2 linked regions of the Homo sapiens genome follow. The protein of the gene in region 1 binds, or shares a complex with, the protein of each later gene. Each region holds a gene or a part of one and is shown on either strand. Other genes may lie near its edges.

What was found.
Region 2: ITPR1 (region 1) and CNN1 share a complex: the UniProt entries of both Homo sapiens proteins name them as parts of the cGMP kinase signaling complex.

What each region holds. Positions count from the first base shown.
Region 1 is NC_000003.12:4,495,463-4,504,735, reverse strand, and holds part of ITPR1 (inositol 1,4,5-trisphosphate-gated calcium channel ITPR1), read right to left. Parts: intron 1-9,273. UniProt on the Homo sapiens protein: Inositol 1,4,5-trisphosphate-gated calcium channel that, upon inositol 1,4,5-trisphosphate binding, mediates calcium release from the endoplasmic reticulum (ER).
Region 2 is NC_000019.10:11,540,613-11,549,885, forward strand, and holds part of CNN1 (calponin-1), read left to right. Parts: coding exon of another isoform or gene 1-74; intron 75-463; coding exon 464-585; intron 586-6,062; coding exon 6,063-6,129; intron 6,130-6,219; coding exon 6,220-6,357; intron 6,358-7,184; coding exon 7,185-7,295; intron 7,296-8,710; coding exon 8,711-8,857; intron 8,858-8,937; coding exon 8,938-9,183; 3' UTR 9,184-9,273. UniProt on the Homo sapiens protein: Thin filament-associated protein that is implicated in the regulation and modulation of smooth muscle contraction. It is capable of binding to actin, calmodulin and tropomyosin. The interaction of calponin with actin inhibits the actomyosin Mg-ATPase activity.

The sequences.
Region 1 (9,273 bases):
CCTGGGCACTCAGGGTTAATTTTGGACTTCCTTTGAGCAAAGATGCTTGGCGATATCATCTTTATTGTGAAATGAGGAGGAACAGCACATTTTTGACTTGGACATAATGCCACCCTCCTCCCCACACGTTTTCACACAGCTCCCCCTCCTTGCCTTCTTGTCCCATTAGCTGCTAATCAGATCGTCCTCAGAAATGCAGCATGTCCCCATCATCAGATAATTTATTCTCTTGCAAAAAGCACTTCTCTGGGAGCATAGAAAATTGTATTATGCTTTCGTTTTCAGGCAGTCCCAAAGGAAGTCACCAACTCAGAAGTTTCATCTTTAAGCAAGGCCCTTCATGGCCTCCCAGAAACAGCAGCTGTAAATCTGAAGTTCAGAGGAGTGATTCTCTAGTATAATACAACGTTGCTCATTCTCCATTCCCCCCGCCGCAACACACATACACACACAAAAATAAACCTACTCGCTTTTTCAGACATGTCTGCTAAATAACCTTTTCCCCAACCAGGTACAATATCTACAAAGTTATTTCTCAAAAAAAGATGCCCGCACTGACATTTGGTCTCATGGCTTCTATTCTTCAAGGCCAAAGTAAGAGAAGCCAACCAAAAGCTCAATATTTCCAAGGCAAAGAGCTGCAGATTTGGTGAGTGGAGGGCATTTAGCTAAAACTCTTTAATTTACGGGTAGAAAAAACAAACCTGAGGCCTAGTGATTTCTTGGAGGTCACACAGCTGATGAGTGCCCAAAGATAGACCACAGGGCTCCAGATACCAAGGCCAGTGTTTTTTGGTTTTGGGAGGGGGCGAGAGGGGGAGGGTGCTTATTTTGTTAAAAAGTTGAAGTCAGTCCCAGCCTGAAGAGACACCCCTCTGCCCACATAGCCCAAACCTCAAAAAACCAGCAAATGAAGTTAGGTCAATATCCTCAGAGAGAGACAAAAGTCTCACCAAGCCAGAAAAATTCACTCAAGGACAGGGTTTCTTAACCGGTTCACTACTGACATTCTAGGGCAGAGAGGTCTCCGTTGCGTGTGTGTGTGGTGGGGCAGGGGAGTGGGGGGCTATCCTGTGCACCATAGGATCTGTTCACAAAATGCCAGTAGCACCCCACCCCTGCCTGCCAGATAGAACAACCAAAAATATCTCCAGACGATACCAAATGTCCCCTGGAGGACACAAATCACTCTCCCTGTCCCCATTGAGACCACTGCTCTAGGACATAGATAGGTTTTGCTTTGTTTTTTTATCTGTAACGCCTTCTGCAAACATTTGTTTTTAGACAACTCGGCAGCAATGACCCGAAGCAGGTATTTTTATTTTTACACCTATTCTACAGAAGAGGAAACAGATGCACAGATGTTCCATGTTTTGCCCCTTACCCAAGAAGCAGTCAACACTCGGTACTGCGGAGTCCCCATCCTGTGGCTCACCAGGGCAATACCAATATGACCTGAAAGCAGCTTGGTTTCACTACCTGATTTTTCCACTCCCTTTTATGAATACTCAACAGTTTCCCAAGACAAATGTCCTGCAGAGATTTGTACTGAACAACACCTCAAAAGCTATCAAAAGGAAATGCTTAATATCTCTACATGGTCCTCACGTCACCCTCTGCAATAAAGGGCTTTTCTTTTTTTCTTTTTATTGAGATGGAGTCTCACTCTGCCCCCCAGGCTGGAGTGCAGTGGTGCGATCTCAGCTCACTGCAACCTCCACCTCCTGAATTCAAGCAATTCTCCTGCCTCAGCCTCCCAAGTAGCTGGGACTACAGGTGCCCACCATCATGCCCAGCTAATTTTTTTTGTAATTTTAGTAGAGATGGGGTTTCACCATGTTGGCCAGGCTGGTCTCAAACTCCTGACCTCAGGTGACCCACCCACCTTGGCATCCCAAAGTGCTAGGATTACAGGCGTGAGCCACGATGCCTGGCTGTAAGGCTTTTCAAAGAAAGATGCCAGTTCAAGAAATATTTAATCAGGAGAGGGGTACAGGGGCCAGGCGCAGTGGATCACGCCTGTAATCCCAGCACTTCGGGAGGCCAAGGTGGGCAGGTCATGAGGTCAAGAGATCGAGACAATCCTGGCCAACATGGTGAAATCCCATCTCTACTAAAAATATAAAAATTAGCTAGGCATGGTGGCACATGCCTGTAGACCCAGCTACTCAGGAGGCTGAGGCAGGAGAATCGCTTGAACCTGGCAGGCGGAGGTTGCAGTGAGCTGAGATCAGGCCACTGCACTCCAGCCTGGTGACAGAGCGAGATTCCTTCTCAAAAAAAAAAAAAGGAGAGAGGGGTACAAAAAATTAGTTTTTCCAAGCAGCCTTCAAAGGGAGAAAAAACATATATACAAATTACTTATTGTGTAAGCACTTCCTGTGTGCCAGGTATTCTTATGAGTTAAAAAAACACAAAAGGCCCAAAAGGAAAATAGGTTTTAGGGCCCTGGAGTTTCAAATGACAGATTTTCAAGTATCATAAAAAACTTCCCGGAGGAGGAAGCGTTTGGGCTGGGCCCTAAGGAATAGAAGGATCTGGCGAGGTGGACAGACGGGGGTGGGGAGGGACACATGAGGTACAACATACACACACACGACAAGGCAAACAAATGAATGTCCGTCGTCTGGGTGTCGTATCAGCTTTTTCTGTTCAGAAATATGTGCTTGGGATGCTTTTAAGCTGTTCTTGCAAAAGAAAATCATTTCCCAGACAAAGCTCCTTCTGAAATGCAAAAGAACAGCAAGAAACTTGGAGACTAGTGATATTTTTCTTATGTTCATCTTCTTCTGATAAGCCGCATTATATCAAGCCATCCAGAAGTTCTGCTGATGGGACAGGTCAGAAAGTATGATAAAACATAAGTTCCTCATTGTCCCATGACAGCAGGTGAACAGCAGTGACTTCACAACTCTAAGTAGGGGTACATGTGCCTTCTGGTCTCTTTCTGCCTTCATGTGAACAGCGAATAAAAGCTCCCCCAAATGTAAGCATCAAAGTTCCCATGTTTGTTGGAGAGGGAATCATGTGAAAACTACTTACTCTCACCTCAGGTTGGTGATTAGCCTACCTTTCCACTTCACTGAAAATAAGGCTGCAGGGGAAAAGTACAAAGGTCAGCTTCAGCCTGAACAGGTGAGAGCTAGCCATGAAAAAGCAAAGGAACCACTAAATGACAAGGACTGAAAAAGCACAGGGACAGGCATCCTCCAATGCATATCTTCTCGTATTTTCACGTGTGTGTGAATCACTTGAGGATCTTGCAAAAATGTAGGTTCTCATTCATTGAATGTGGAGTAGGGTCTGAGAGTCTGCAATTGCTAGCAAGTTCCCAGTTAATGTCAGTAACGCTGGTCTGGGGACCACACTTGGAGTGGCAAAGATGTAGTACAGTGTTTCTCAAACTTTTGACTGCAGCTCAGAGTAAGAAAACTATTGAACTTACAACCCAATGTTCATTGTGTATGTGAGACAAAGAATTTTGTTGCAACATACACAGTTCTTTTTAAGTATCCACGAAATACACTTCCATGTTTTCTATTCTAGTGCATGTCATTAAAAAAAAAAAAAGTTTGGCTGGGCCCGGTGACTCACACCTCCAGTCCCAGCACTTTGGGAGGCCAAGGCGAGAGGATCGTTTGAGCCTAGAAGTTCAAGGCCAACCTGGACAATACAGGGAGACCCAATCTCTACAAAAAAAAATTTTTTTTTTAAATTAGCCAGGAGTGGTGGGGCACGCTGGTGGTCCCAACTACTCAGGAGACCGAGGTGAGAGGATCGCTTGTGCCTGGGAGGTTGAGGCTGCAGTGAGCCAACATCATGTCACTGTACTCCAGCCTTGGCAACAGAGCAAGACCCTGTTTCAAAAACTAAAAATAAAAAGTTCATCAAGGCCCACTAAATTGATTTAACAACCTCTTAGTGGGTTTCCACAGAGTTTGAAAAACACGGATACAGAACAAGAGTAACATTCCTGCTCATCTGGGGAGAACAATGATGTCTTAGCCTCAGGACACTAAGGCTAAACCCAAAACCAATTTTTAAAAAAAGTTTAGATTATATTCAGAATTCTTTGCAAAAAGGCAAGGATAGGTCAATTGCATTTTGGAAATACTTTCACCTAGGAAATTCAAGTTTTAAGTTTTCTTCATTTTAATTTGTCTTCTCGTCTGTAAGATGAGGATGACAAGAGTACCTACTTGGCCCTAGGTGGAGATCTCTAAATACCATTTTGGCCAGGCATGATGGTCTCACGCCTGTAATCCCAACACTTTGGGAGGTCAAGGTGAGAACACTGCTTGAGCCTAGGTGTTTGAGAGCATCCTGGACAACATGGCGAGATCCCGTCCCTACAAAAAAACAAAAAAGATTAGCCAGGTGTGGTGGTGAATGCCCATAGTCCCAGCTACTCAGGAGGATTAGGTGAGAGGGTAGCTTGAGCCCAAGAGGCAGAAGTTGCAGTGAGCTGAAATCATGCCACTGCACTCCAGCCTGGGCAGCAGAGTAAGACTCTGTCTCAAAAAAACAAAACAAACAAAATTTCCCTCTTAAAAGAGCAAAGGCTCCTTGGAGAAAAGGCCGATTCTTGGTCTGGGATAAGAAATAGAGAAGATGAGCCTGGAACATCTTGTTATACAGAAATCAAAAAAGCTAGCAAAGACAACAAGGGCTGTGTCGAAATCTCAGGAACTTTACCAGCCCATTTCTCACTGACGAGAGAACTAATGGATTCAGGTAGTGAGCATCAAGGGGTGCTCATATAACAAGAGTAGACATCCAACATCTCACACCCACCTAAGCAAAGTTTACAGAGCAGACTTACTGGAGTCCCAGCTACTGGGAAGGCTGGCACAGGAAGACTGCTTGAGACCAGGAGTCCAAGGCCAGCCGAGGCAACATAGTGAGACCCCTTCTCAATTTAAAAAAGAAAAGAACCTAACTTTGATGAAGCCTCTACATCTAACTACCAAATTATGGTACCCCAAGGGGATACAGAAACATGTTAAACCACATTGCACTGATGCAGTCAGCAAAGTCTAAACTGTGGAGACGTGTATCACCCAGTTTCTTCGATAACAACAAAAAAAATGCATGGAAAAAAGATCTGTAGAGGAAATACAGAGATTAGTGAACATCAACCATTTGTAATGTATTTACCTTATTTGGATCCTAATTCAAACTGTTAAATACGTGTATGTGTAAAATTATTATATTATGTATTTTTTACAAATATCTATTTATATATGTATATATATCAGGGAAGTATAAACCTAGACTCAATAAAAATGAAAGGCCATCAAAGGGGTAGGCACATTTAGAAAAATGAGACACAGATGTCTGTTTATTAAAAAGATGTTCAAGATGTACAAAAGGTAATTTACCAAATGAGAGATACTGTGTTAGTCCCTTTTTATGAAATTTAAATATATACGTAAATTTTACATATGCATACTTAGAGGAAAAGCCTGAAACCCTAATCTCTAATAGTTGAATTGTTTTGTTTTGTTTCATTGCTCCTCTTTATTTCCTAATGTTGCACTACAATGAATATGCTATCTTTTTCTCCTTAAAAAAATTTTTTTAACAGAGATGGGGTCTTGCTGGAGTACAGTAGCTATCACAGATGCAATCATAGTATATTACAGCCTCAAACCCCCGGGCTCAAGTAATTCTCCTGCCTCCGTCCCCTGAGTAGCCGAGTCCAAGGTGTGTGCTACATGAATATGTATATCTTATGTAATAAGTAACAAAATTTGAGGTTTGCTTTAAGTTTGCACATGTGCAGGGGTCCACTTCACTTATTAAGGAGAATCACTGATGTGAAGCTTCTAATTCCTCAAGGATGCTGGAGAGCAGAATATTAGTCCTCCTTGTAAATATCTCTTAAAACGACACTGGATACAACGCAGGGTGGCGGTAAGACATAGGTTTGTGTTGAAACTCCAGGATTATCATTATGTTCTTACAATTTGCTCTCCAAGTCAACTGTACGTTCACCTATTTGTCAAACTTTCCTTTTCTACTGAAGTGAATTACAACTCCAGGTAAGTCCTGTCATTAACCAGACAGTCCAGAAATCTGGGTTTTACCCCCTATCGAGTTCCCATCTGGTATGTGATCCTGCCAACCTTACCAGAGTCTCTTCAGAAAGGACAATGTAGTTTTGTGATGTTGAAAACCACACTGAGAATTCCGTGAGAGTTTACAAGTCCTCAGATAAACCACTGTTGACCTGCAAAATCTGGTCCCTACAGGTCTGGACCTTGACTCCCTCTCCCTCCTGAACTCCTAGCACTCTCCCCTGGCCTTCTTCTCCTTCCTCCAACATGTCACAAACACTCCTATCTCAGGGCCTCTGTACTTGCTGCTCTGACATTTGGAACACACTTTTTCCCTGACAGCTACAGGGTCAACTCGTTTGCCTCCTTCAGATCTGTGCTGAGATGTCATGTAGTAAAGATCTAATCCCCACCTGAGTACTCCCTTAATACCCCTCATCATGTTTTGTTGCTTTTTAAAATTACTGTAAAATATACATAACATAAAATATACCACTTTGAAATGTTATAACTCAGTGGCACTAAGTACATTCACACTGTTGTGTGACATCACCACCATCCATTTCCAGAACTTTTTCATCTTTCCAAACTGAAACTCTATCCTCAATAAACACTAACTCCCCCTTCCTGTCTTCTATCTCCCCCAGCAATCCCCATTCTACTTTCTGTCTGCAGGGATCTGACTACTCTAGATGCCTCTATAAGAAAAATCATAAAATATGTGTCCTTTTATTTCTGGCTTGTTTCACTTAGCATGTTTTCAAGGTTCATCCACATTGTAGCATGTGTCAGAATTCCCTTTTTAAGGCTGAATAATATTCCATTGTATGTATATTTCACATTTTATCTGTTCATTCATCAGTAGACTTGTGTTGTTTCTACCTTTTGGCTACTGTGATAATGCTTCTACTGACACAGGTGTACAAATATCTGCTCACGTCCCTACTTTCAATTTTTTAAAGTATATACCTTGAAGTGGAATTGCTGGGACATATAGTAATTTTATGTTTAATTTTTTTTAGTAACTGCCATGCTGTTTTCCACAGCAGCTTCACCATTTTACATTCCCACCGGCAATGCACAAGGGATCTAATTTCTCCACTTGTTATTTTCTGTTCCCCCTTTAACCAGTTTTCTTTTTCTCCATAGCTTTTACTACCTCTAATACTATAATACTTACTTGTTTATTTATATTGGCTGCCTCCCACCAACTGAGATGTAAGCCTCTTGGGAACGGGATGGTTTGTTCATTGCTATATCCTGAGCACCTGGAATACATCTTAGTACATAGCAGGTGCTCAAGAAATTTGTTGAATAAAGAATAAAACATTTGAATCGCACACAACTTGAACAGGTCTTAGAGTCTGTTAAATAGATTTACCACACCATGTGCCTTAAACTACATCCAATTTAGAAATCTCAAAGTTGAATGGGTGACGGTTTCAGTGGTGTATCTGGCTTATTCTCATTAGCAATCATCTCAGAACCACAGAAACCAAGAGAATTGTAAGGAATCATAGAAGTTATGTCATTCACATCACCGACTTCAAGCCTTAATTGCATTCATCAATTGAGCTATGCACAAACTTAAAACAGCAAAAATGGAAAAAAAAAAAACTGCATGGACTTCTGGTTAACAGACAGCCTGCAAATGCAATGTGTTTTATTTTTAAAAATCAAACCAATAGTAAACAAGATAGACACTGGCCCTGTGGAGACTCCTTAATTAGATGTAGCCAAAGACAGCTTGACCTAGAAACCTAACTCCAGGCCTACTTTTATTTTGGCTGTTTTTTTCTGTTGTTCATATTTGGTGTTTGTTTTATTTTTGTTTGTTTTCTAAGAGCTGCTCATGAAGAAATCAGACAGTTTCCATGATATCTTTATAAATGAGTTGAAAAGCCATGTGATATTCCCCCCTCTGGAAGTCAGTTGGTTGCACACCATTGGATTAAAGGTTTCTTTTTTATCTTTCTCTCTGCCCACTCTCCTCCCTCCCCGCAATACCAACACCCTGATCTTCCTCACTTAAAAATATTTTGAAGAAAAGACTCTTGATCTTTCTGTGGAGTTCATCTATCTCTTTTTTTCTAAGCAACCATTCCACTTCTCATTCCTAAAGAAAAGATGCCAATTCCCTCCAAAAGACAATCACTTGGTTTAAATAGATACCATTGTCAACCCCAAATGACTTTCATGGGTCTCAAGGCAAGAGCCAGAGTAATTCACTTAGAACATGAAGAACTTTCCCTGCCTGATAAGAATGATATCTTGAAAGGATTTTCTGTTCTGATTTGAATTATTCAAAGAGCAGATTGTACTTTCAGTGTACATATGCATACACACACACACACACACACATGAACTTGAAAGAAAAAATGGAGAACAAAAACGTCTGCACAACTGGCTGCAAAGCAAACTGGAAGGTATATGAAAAGGTATCAACATTTCACATTGCAGTCTAACTGCAGTTTAAACTTTCGAATTATTCAGATGGGGAAACGCCTGATCCTTTTAACCTACTCAGATTCTTTGATGTAAACAATCAAGATGTATTTCAGCTAGGAGGTGAGCCTAATGCTTAACTTACATAATGTTCCTTGTGGTTTTGTTTCTTTTTACTCTCCCCATTCAGGCTTTCCAAAATGAACTCATTACAGTATCTAATACCTCCTCAAATATCTGCACTCTTTTATCCCTATGTTTGTGGCTACATCCTTTCCTTCTTACATCAATGTTATGTATTATTTCATCATTGGTGGGAGGTATGCAAGTTATTTCATCAGTAGCAGTAAGTTTACCATTTTTCCTAGCTTCCCTCTCACCACCAGCATCCCCAAATCAACTGAGGTCCATTTGTGGGATGCAGTACAGCCTCACCGCCTGAGGTTACACCCTGCTCCTACTTTGTACTAGCTACTGGGCAAGTGATTTCACTCTCTGCACCTCAGTTTCTTCACCTGCATCTGACGCACAGGGTTTCTGAGATACATGGCTCTGGACCTGGCTTACAAGTACTTAATGTGTCCATCTTATTATTTTTAGCAACCAGTTAGAAAAGAGTCTGTGGACCAGTTTTTCCTTGCTGTACAGCTAATTCTGAAAAGGGGAACTGGGCCTAATCCTTGGCTCTATGAGCACCCACACAGCCATGTGAGTCAACAGAACTCCAAGAAGAAACTAGAGTTCTCACATCCAAATGCTTCTCACTCCG
Region 2 (9,273 bases), on another chromosome or scaffold:
GATGTATGACCAGCACTCCTCTGCAAGCCAGCACCCAGGGACACCTCCTTAGACATCCTTCTTCCCTTCCTGAGGTGCCCTCTCTTCCAACAGGGGGCACAGAGGGGGCAGGGCTAGAGGAAGAGAAGCCCCAAGTTTGGCCTGGGCGAAAAACCAGGGTGCCGGGTGCCACCCCTCTAGCTCAGAGGATCCAGCTCCCCACACCCCACCCCTCATCTACATTCCCTGGTGCCAAACCTCAGAATGCCCGGAATGGCCCCCTGGGCAGGTGCCACCTCAGCCCTGGCTCTCAGCCCGCCCCAGCCCCCATCCCCCAACTATGGATCTGGGGCAAAATTGCCTTAGTTGGGAAGGACGAGGGAGATCAGGCTCTAGGAAGTTCAGACAGGACCCAGGGAGCCCAGGCTGCCCCCAATGCATCCTCACCCCTTTCTCTGTGCCCCCTGCCCTCCCCTCGCCCCAGCTGGCCCAGAAGTATGACCACCAGCGGGAGCAGGAGCTGAGAGAGTGGATCGAGGGGGTGACAGGCCGTCGCATCGGCAACAACTTCATGGACGGCCTCAAAGATGGCATCATTCTTTGCGAGTGAGTGAGGCTCTCGAAGCCGAGACCCTGCAACATCCCCCAACTCCATGCAGCCCCTCAACCCCCAAAACAACCATGATCCTGGAACTGAGTTGAACACTTTCTATTGGATACCTTTGGGGTGGCCAGTAATCATTGTGCCCATTTAACAGGCACAGAAAACTGAGGCTCAGGTGAAATGCATTGCACCAAGTCCCACGTGGTTTCAAGGGAAATGACTCTAGAATCTTAACCACCATGCTATATAGGGTAGGCCCATCTGTGGCCGCCAGAGTCCCCAGAAAGAGCGGTCACAGCTAAAAGGCAGCAGCCAACAGCTGTTCATGGCTGGCTTGGTGATGTGAGGAGAGATGTGCAGCAATAATTAAAGGAGGCCCTGGTTTTCTTTCTGTTTTCTTTTTGTTTTTTTGAGATACAGTCTTGTTCTGTTGCCCAGGCTGCAGTGCAGAGACACAATCTCGGCTCACTGCAACCTCCGCCTCCAGGGTTTAAGTGATTCTCCTGCCTCAGCCTCCCCAATAGCTGGGATTACAGGCACGCACCACCATGCCTGGCTAATTTTTGTATTTTTTTAAAGTAGAGATGGGGTTTCACCATGTTGGCCAGGATGGTTACGAACTCCTGACCTCAATTGATCCACCTACCTCAGCCTCCCAAAGTGCTGGGATTACAGGCACGTGCCACCATGCCCGGTTAATTTTTGTTTTTTTTTTTTTTTTTTCAGTAGAGATGGAGTTTCACCATGTTGACTAGGCTGGTCTTGAACTCCTGACTTCAAGTGATCCACCTGCCTTGGCCTCCCAAAGTGCTGGGATTGCAGGCACATGCCACCACGCCTGGCTAATTTTTGTATTTTTTTTTTTTTTTTTTAGTAGAGACAGTGTTTCACCATGTTGACCGGGCTGGTCTCAAACTCCTGACCTCAAGTGATCCACCTGCCTCGGCCTCCCAAATTGCTGGGATTACAGGCATGAGCCACCTCGCCCGACCTTCTTCTTCTTCTTCTTTTTTTTGAGATGGAGTCTTCCTCTGTCACCCGGGCTGGAGTGCAGTGACATGATCTCAGCTCACTGCAACCTCTGCTTTCCGGGTTCAAGTGATTCTTGTGTCTCAGCCTCCTGAGCAGCTGGGATTACAGGTGCCCACCACCTTGCCCGGATAACTTTTGTATTTTTAGTAGAGACGGGATTTTGCCATGTTGGCCTGGCTGGTCTCGAACTCCTGACCTCAAGTGATCCACCCGCCTTAGTCTCACAAAGTGCTGGCATTACAGGCATGAACCACTGCACCCTGCCGGCCCTGGTTTTCTCCTCGCCTCAAAACCTCATTGCTGAGGGAGGTGAAAACCCTAACAGCTCCCAAGCCCCAGTTCCACTGCAATCTTTTTTTTTTTTTTCAGATGGAATCTTGCTTTGTGACCCAGGCTGGAGTGCAGTGGCATGATCTTGGCTCACTGCAAGCTCTGCCTCCCAGGTTCAAGCAATTCTCCTGCCTCAGCCTCCTGAGTAGCTGGGATTACAGGTGCCCGCCACCACGCCCAGCTAATTTTTGTATTTTTAGTAGAGACGGGGTTTCACCATGTTGGTCAGGCTGGTCTCGAACCCCTGACCTTGTGATCCACCCACCTCGGCCTCCCAAAGTGCTGGGATTATAGGCGTGAGCCACCGCGCCCGGCTCCACTGCAATCTTAATGCATAGCAGGGCCCTAAACCCAGCCTGCGCCCGATCTGCATTTGAGTCTGACCCAGGGCAGAGTGACTGTGAGTGGCCTCGGGAAGACTTTGAAGGTGCAGCTTCATCAAGTCCTAGATGCTGGGAAGAAGGGGTGTGGGGGGTGTTTACCTTGTTCCATTCCCATCCACTAGGAACAAGGAATTGGCAGGTGGGGAGGTAGGCATGCTGGTGTCCCAGCTCAGGCAGAGGACTGCTCAGACGTCAAACAGTGCAGTCCCAGCCTGGGCAACATAGCCAGATTCCATCTCTACAAAACATTTTTGTTTTAATTAGCTTGGCATGGTGGCATGCGCCTGTGGTCCCAGCTACTCGGAAGGCTGAGGTGGGAGGATCGCTTGAGCCCTGGAGGTCAAGGCTGCAGTGAGCTATGATCGCGCCACTGCACTCCAGCCTGGGCAACAGTGAAACCCTGTCTCAAAAAAAAAAAAACTAATGTAAACGACAAGTTGATGGGTGCAGCAAACCAACATGGCACATGTATACCTATGTATCAAACCTGCACGTTGTGCATGTGTACCCTAGAACTTAAAGTATAATAATAATAATAATAATAATAATAAAAGAGTGGGCCGGGCGCGGTGACTCACGTCTGTAATCCCAGCACTTTGGGAGGCTGAGGCAGGCGGATCACGAGGTCAGGAGATCAAGACCATCCTGGCTAACACGGTGAAACCCTGTCTCTACTAAAAAAAATACAAAAAATTAGCCGGGCGTGGTGGCAGGCGCTTGTAGTCCCAGCTACTCGGGAGGCTGAGGCAGGAGAATAGCGTGAACCCGGGAGGCGGAGCTTGCAGTGAGCCGAGATCCCACCACTGCACTCCAGCTTGGGTGACAGAGCGAGACTCCGTCTCAAAAAAAAAAAAAAAAAAAAAGACCTAATGTAAATGACGAGTTGATGGGTGCAGCAAACCAAAATGGCACATGTATACCTATGTATCAAACCTGCACATAGTGCACATGTACCCCAGAAGTTAAAGTATAAGAAAAAAAAAAAGAGTGTAGTGCAGTCACCCACGCACTCCGGTCATTCACTCATTCATTCATTCATTCATTCACAAAAGAAGCATTTATGAGTTCCTGCTGTGTGCCAGGCTCTGGCCTAGGCACTGGGAACAGTGAACAGAACAGACTCGACTCAGAGCTCAAGGACTTTTAGTCCAGTTGAGGAGATCAATCATATAATTGATCAAATAATCACAGATTTGTGGTCGTAAGTGTCCTGGGGAAAACTCAAGCGGAAGGGAAGATGGGAGGGTCAGGTATATGTCTGCGGGTGGAGAGTCTGCAGTTTCCTAGAGAGTGGTCTGGGAGGCCTCTCTGAAGAGGTGACATTTGAACAGAACCTTAGATGAAGTGAGGGAGGGCTCAGGGGACCTGAGGCAAAGCAGAGGGGGCCACCAGTGCAAAGGCGTGAGGTAGGATCGTGCTTGGGGTGTTCAAGAAACAAGAAGGAGGCTGGCGTGACGAGCACCAAATGATTGAGCAGAAGTGGAGATGAAGTCGCAGAGTGAACTGAGAGTCAGATGGTGGAGGGCATTTTATTTCATTTATTTATTTAGAGACAGAGTCTTGCTCTGGTGCCCGGGCTGGAGTACAGCGGTGCAATCATAGCTCACTACAGCCTCGACTTCCTAGGCTCAACTGATCCTCCCACCCCAGCCTCTTCAGCCCCAGCCTCCTCAGTAGCTGGAACTACAGGCACACATCACCACGCCCGGTGAAGTTTTCGGGTTTTTTTTTTTTTTTTTTTTGTAGAGACACGGGTCTCACCATGTTGCCCAGGCTGATCTGAAACTCCTAGGCTCAAGCCATCCTCCTGTCTCGGCTTCCCAAAGCACTGGGATTACAGGTGTGAGCCACTGTGCCCAGTTCTACAGAGGGCATTTTAGGCAGAGGACTTAGGATTTCATTCTGAAGGCAATGGGAGGCTCCTGGAGGATTTGGAACTGGACGGTAACTTGAACTGTTTAAAAAAGGCCATTCTGGGCCAGGGGCAGTGGCTCATGCCTGTAATCCCAGCACTTTGGGAGGCTGAGGTGGGCATATCACTTGAGGTCAGGAGTTCGAAACCAACCTGACCAACATGGTGAAACCGCGTCTCTACTAAAAATACACAAAATTTAGCTGGGCATGGTAGCAGGCACCTGTAATCCCAACTACTTAGGAGGCTGAGGCAGGAGAATTGCTTGAACCCAGGAGACAGAGGTTGCAGTGAGCCGAGATCCCGCCACTGCCTTCCAGCCTGAGTGACAGAGCAAGACTCCATCTCGGAAAAAAAAAAAAAAATTCTGGCTGCTGGATGAAGAAGGGTGGGTCTGTAGGGGATGAAGTGGAAGTTGGGAGCTCATTACAAGAGGCCAGGAAACAGACTCTGGTGGCTGAGACCCAGGTGGAGGTGGCGGGGAGCAGTGGGTGGTTTTCTGGACTCATTAAAAGGCAGAGCCAAAGAACTTTGGAGGGACTGGACATGAGGCTGAGAGAAGGAGAAAGGGGGAGTTGGGGGCAAGTCCAAGGGCTCTGGCTGAGCACCTAGAAGGGGGCACTGCTAGGCAGGGAAGGTGGAGGGAGGGGGGAGTCTGGAGGGGGAAGCTGCATGTCAGGAGTCTGGAGCAGGGTGAGTTTGATTTGAGACACCCAGGCACCCATGGAGAGAGCTGAATGAGATGGTAAGAAACCCAAGCTGCAGGGAGATGAGGGAGTTGCTGGCATATGGAGGCACTTAAAGTCAAGACACTGAATGAGGCCAGGTGCTGTCACTCATGCCTGTAATCCCAGCGCTTTGGGAGGCTGAGGCAGGAGGATCGCTTGAGCCCAGGAGTTCAAGACCAGCTTGGGCAATACAAATACAGTGAAACCCCCTCTCTACCAAAAAAAAAAAAAAAAAAAAAGCCAGGCATGGTGGTGCGCACCTGTGATCCCAGCTACTCGGAAGGCTGAGGTGGGAGGATCGCTGGAGCCTGGGAAGTTGAGGCTGCAGTGAGCTGTGATTGCACCACTGCTCTCCAGCCTGGGCGACAAAGCCACACCCTGCATCAAAAAGAAAAAAAAAAGAAAAGAAAAGAAAAAAGAGGCGAGATCATTAAAGGAGTGAGTCAGAGAAGAGGCCCTTGTGGGCTTCCTGCTGTCTACAAGAGAAAAGGATGCTGAGACACGCCTGCCAGTGAGGCTTCGGAGATCCCAGAGACTCGGACACACCTTGGATAAGCAGGCTTTCTGACTGGGACCTGAGTCTAGCTCCTTGGCATCAGTGTCCCATTTGTGTGTGTGCTTGGGTGGTTTGGAGGGGCTGCAGCTGAGAGCTGACTGCAGGGAGAAGTGACGCTAGGGTATGGCATGGCCCCTTGTGGTCATCCCGTCACCCTCCTCCTGCTGGGCTGGGCTGGAGAGCGGGAGTGGGGGACACCTTTCTTTCTTTTTTTTTTTTTTTTGAGACGGAGTCTCGCTCTGTCCCCAAGCTGGAATGCAGTGCTGCAATCTCAGCTCACTGCAACCTCCGCCTCCTGGGTTCAAGTGATTGCCTCAGCCTCCTGAGTAGCTGGGAGTACAGGCATGTGCCACCACGCCTGGCTAATTTTTGTATTTTTAGTAGAGATGGGGTTTCACCATGTTGGCCAGGATAGTCTCGCTCTCCTGACCTCGTGATCCACCCGCCTTGGCCTCCCAAAGTGCTGGGATTACAGGCGTGAGCCACCGTGCCCAACCCTGGGGGGACACCTTTCTTACCCCTTCCCCACTCTTCTCAGATTCATCAATAAGCTGCAGCCAGGCTCCGTGAAGAAGATCAATGAGTCAACCCAAAATTGGCACCAGGTGAGCCCAGACACAATCTCTTCCATCCTTGCCCGCAAGCCCCTCAGACCTCCCCTCCCCACCCAGTGACCACCACCTGCCCCCCTCTAGCTGGAGAACATCGGCAACTTCATCAAGGCCATCACCAAGTATGGGGTGAAGCCCCACGACATTTTTGAGGCCAACGACCTGTTTGAGAACACCAACCATACACAGGTGCAGTCCACCCTCCTGGCTTTGGCCAGCATGGTGAGTGTGGTTGCAGGCTGGGCAGGGGGTGGTGGGCAGCCTGGGCTGGGATGCAGGTGTGGCCACTTGTGCTCCTGAGCCCAGTGAAGGTGGCGGAGCGGGGGGCAGGGATCGGGGAGCAGGTGCTGTCAACAGCGTCCAAGGGGGCCGGGCGCGGTCGCTCACACCTGTAATCCCAGCACTTTGGGAGGCCAAGGTGAGCGGATTGCTTGAGGCCGGGAGTTTGAGACCAGTCTGGCCAACATGGTGAAATCCCGTCTCTACTAAAAATACAAAAATTAGCTGGACGTGGTGACGCATGCCTGTAATCCCAGCTACTCAGGAGGCTGAGGCAGGAGAATCGCTTGAACCCGGGAGGCGGAGTCTGCAGTGAGCCGAGATCGTGCCACTGCCCAGCCTGGGTGACAGAGCCAAGACTCCGTCTCAAAAAAAAAAAAACAAAAAACAAAAAACAGTGTTGGCCGGGCACGGTGGCTCACGCCTGTAATCCCAGCACTTTGGGAGGCCGAGACAGGTGGATCACAAGGTCAGGAGATTGAGACCATCCTGGCTAACATGGTGAAACCCTGTCTCTACTAAAACTACAAAACAAAATTAGCCGGGCATGGTGGCAGGCGCTTGTAGTCCCAGCTACTAGGGAGACTGATGCAGGAGAATGGTGTGAAGCCGGGAGGCGGAGCTTGCAGTGAGCTGAGATCACGCCACTGCACTCCAGCCTGGGCAACAGAGCGAGACTCTGTGTCAACAACAACAAAAAAACAGTGTCCAAGGGGACTGTGCAGCCTGGAGGCCCCCTTGTCAGTCCCTGCTTTCCCTGCCCCACCTAGGCGAAGACGAAAGGAAACAAGGTGAACGTGGGAGTGAAGTACGCAGAGAAGCAGGAGCGGAAATTCGAGCCGGGGAAGCTAAGAGAAGGGCGGAACATCATTGGGCTGCAGGTACCGCCCTGTCCTCACTGCGCAGAGGTCATAGAGGCCAGGAGGGCACCCTGATGTCTGAAGGCTTTTGGGGACAGGATATTTGGCATTAACTATACTATAGGCCGGGTACTGTGCTTATGCTCATCTTCCATTCACAAACTCACTCACTCTGCCAACACCCCAGCAGACAGGTGCTTGTTATCAACATACCCTTTCCGCAGATGAGAAAACTGAGACCCGGAGAAGCTGGCTCGCTTTTGCACAGATCTTCCAGCTGATGCGTGGCAGGCTGGAACTTCAATGCTAGAAGTCAGTCATGTGATAGGCCCACTCTGGGCCTCAGTTTCCAGTCTCGAAAGGATGCCTCAGGCGGGGTGCAGTGGCTCACACCTGTAATTCCAGCACTTGGGGAGGCTGAGGCAGGAGGATTGCTTGAGGTCAGGTGTTTCAGACCAGCCTGGGCAAAATAGAACCCCCCTCCACCGCCATCTCTACAACAAATTTAAGAGTTTAGCCAAATGCAGTGGTGTCTGCCTGTGGTCCCAGCTACTTAGGAGGCTGAAGTGGGAGAATCACTTGAGCCCAGGAGTTCAAGGTTACAATGATTGCATCACTGGACTCCAGCCTGGGCGACAGAGTGAGACCCTGTCTCTAAAAATGAAAATGGGCTGGGTATGGTGGCTCATGCCAGTAATCCTAGCACTTCGGGAGGCCGAGGCAGGCGGATCACTTAAAGTCAAGAGTTCAAGGCCAGCCTGGCCAACGTGGTGAAACCCTGTCACTACCAAAAATACAAAAACTAGCCGGTGTGGTGGGGCACACCTGTAGTCCCAGCTACTCAGGAGGCTGAGGCAGGAGAATTGCTTGAACTCAGGAGGCAGAGGTTGCAGTGGGCCAAGATTGTGCCGCTGCACTCCAACCTGGGCGACAGAGTGAGATGCTATCTCAAATAAAATAAAATAAAACAAAAAAATAGAATAGAACAAAATAAAATATAAAAATAAACTAAAAAATGGGCCAGGCACAGTGGCTCACCCCTGTAATCCCAGCACTTTGGGAGGGTGAGGTGGGTGGATCACCTGAGGTCAGGAGTTCGAGACCAGCGTGGCCAACATGGTGAAACCCCATTTCTACTAAAAATACAAAAAATTATCCGGGCATGGTGATGCCCACCTGTGATCCCAGCTACTCCGGAGGCTGAGGCAGGAGAATTGCTTGAATGTGCAAGATGGAGATTTCAGTGAGCTGAGATCATGTCACTGCACTCCAGCCTGGGCAACAGAGCAAGACTCCGTCTCAAAAAAAAATAAATAAAATAAAATAAAAATTGAAAAAAATGATAAAGCGGCGCCTCATCCTCTCCCATCAGCTATGCCTCATGGCCCATGATGAGGTCTGTAATTATTGGTGTGATTCTCCTTCTGGCTTCCTAGATGGGCACCAACAAGTTTGCCAGCCAGCAGGGCATGACGGCCTATGGCACCCGGCGCCACCTCTACGACCCCAAGCTGGGCACAGACCAGCCTCTGGACCAGGCGACCATCAGCCTGCAGATGGGCACCAACAAAGGAGCCAGCCAGGTGAGTGGGGGCCCCCGGGACACGCCGTCAAGGCCCAGGACCCTGGCCACCCCACGGCCTGACCACACCACCCTTCGCAGGCTGGCATGACTGCGCCAGGGACCAAGCGGCAGATCTTCGAGCCGGGGCTGGGCATGGAGCACTGCGACACGCTCAATGTCAGCCTGCAGATGGGCAGCAACAAGGGCGCCTCGCAGCGGGGCATGACGGTGTATGGGCTGCCACGCCAGGTCTACGACCCCAAGTACTGTCTGACTCCCGAGTACCCAGAGCTGGGTGAGCCCGCCCACAACCACCACGCACACAACTACTACAATTCCGCCTAGGGCCACAAGGCCTTCCCTGTTTTCCCCCCAAGGGAGGCTGCTGCTGCTCTTGGCTGGACCCAGCCAGGCCCAGCCGACCCCCTCTCCCTG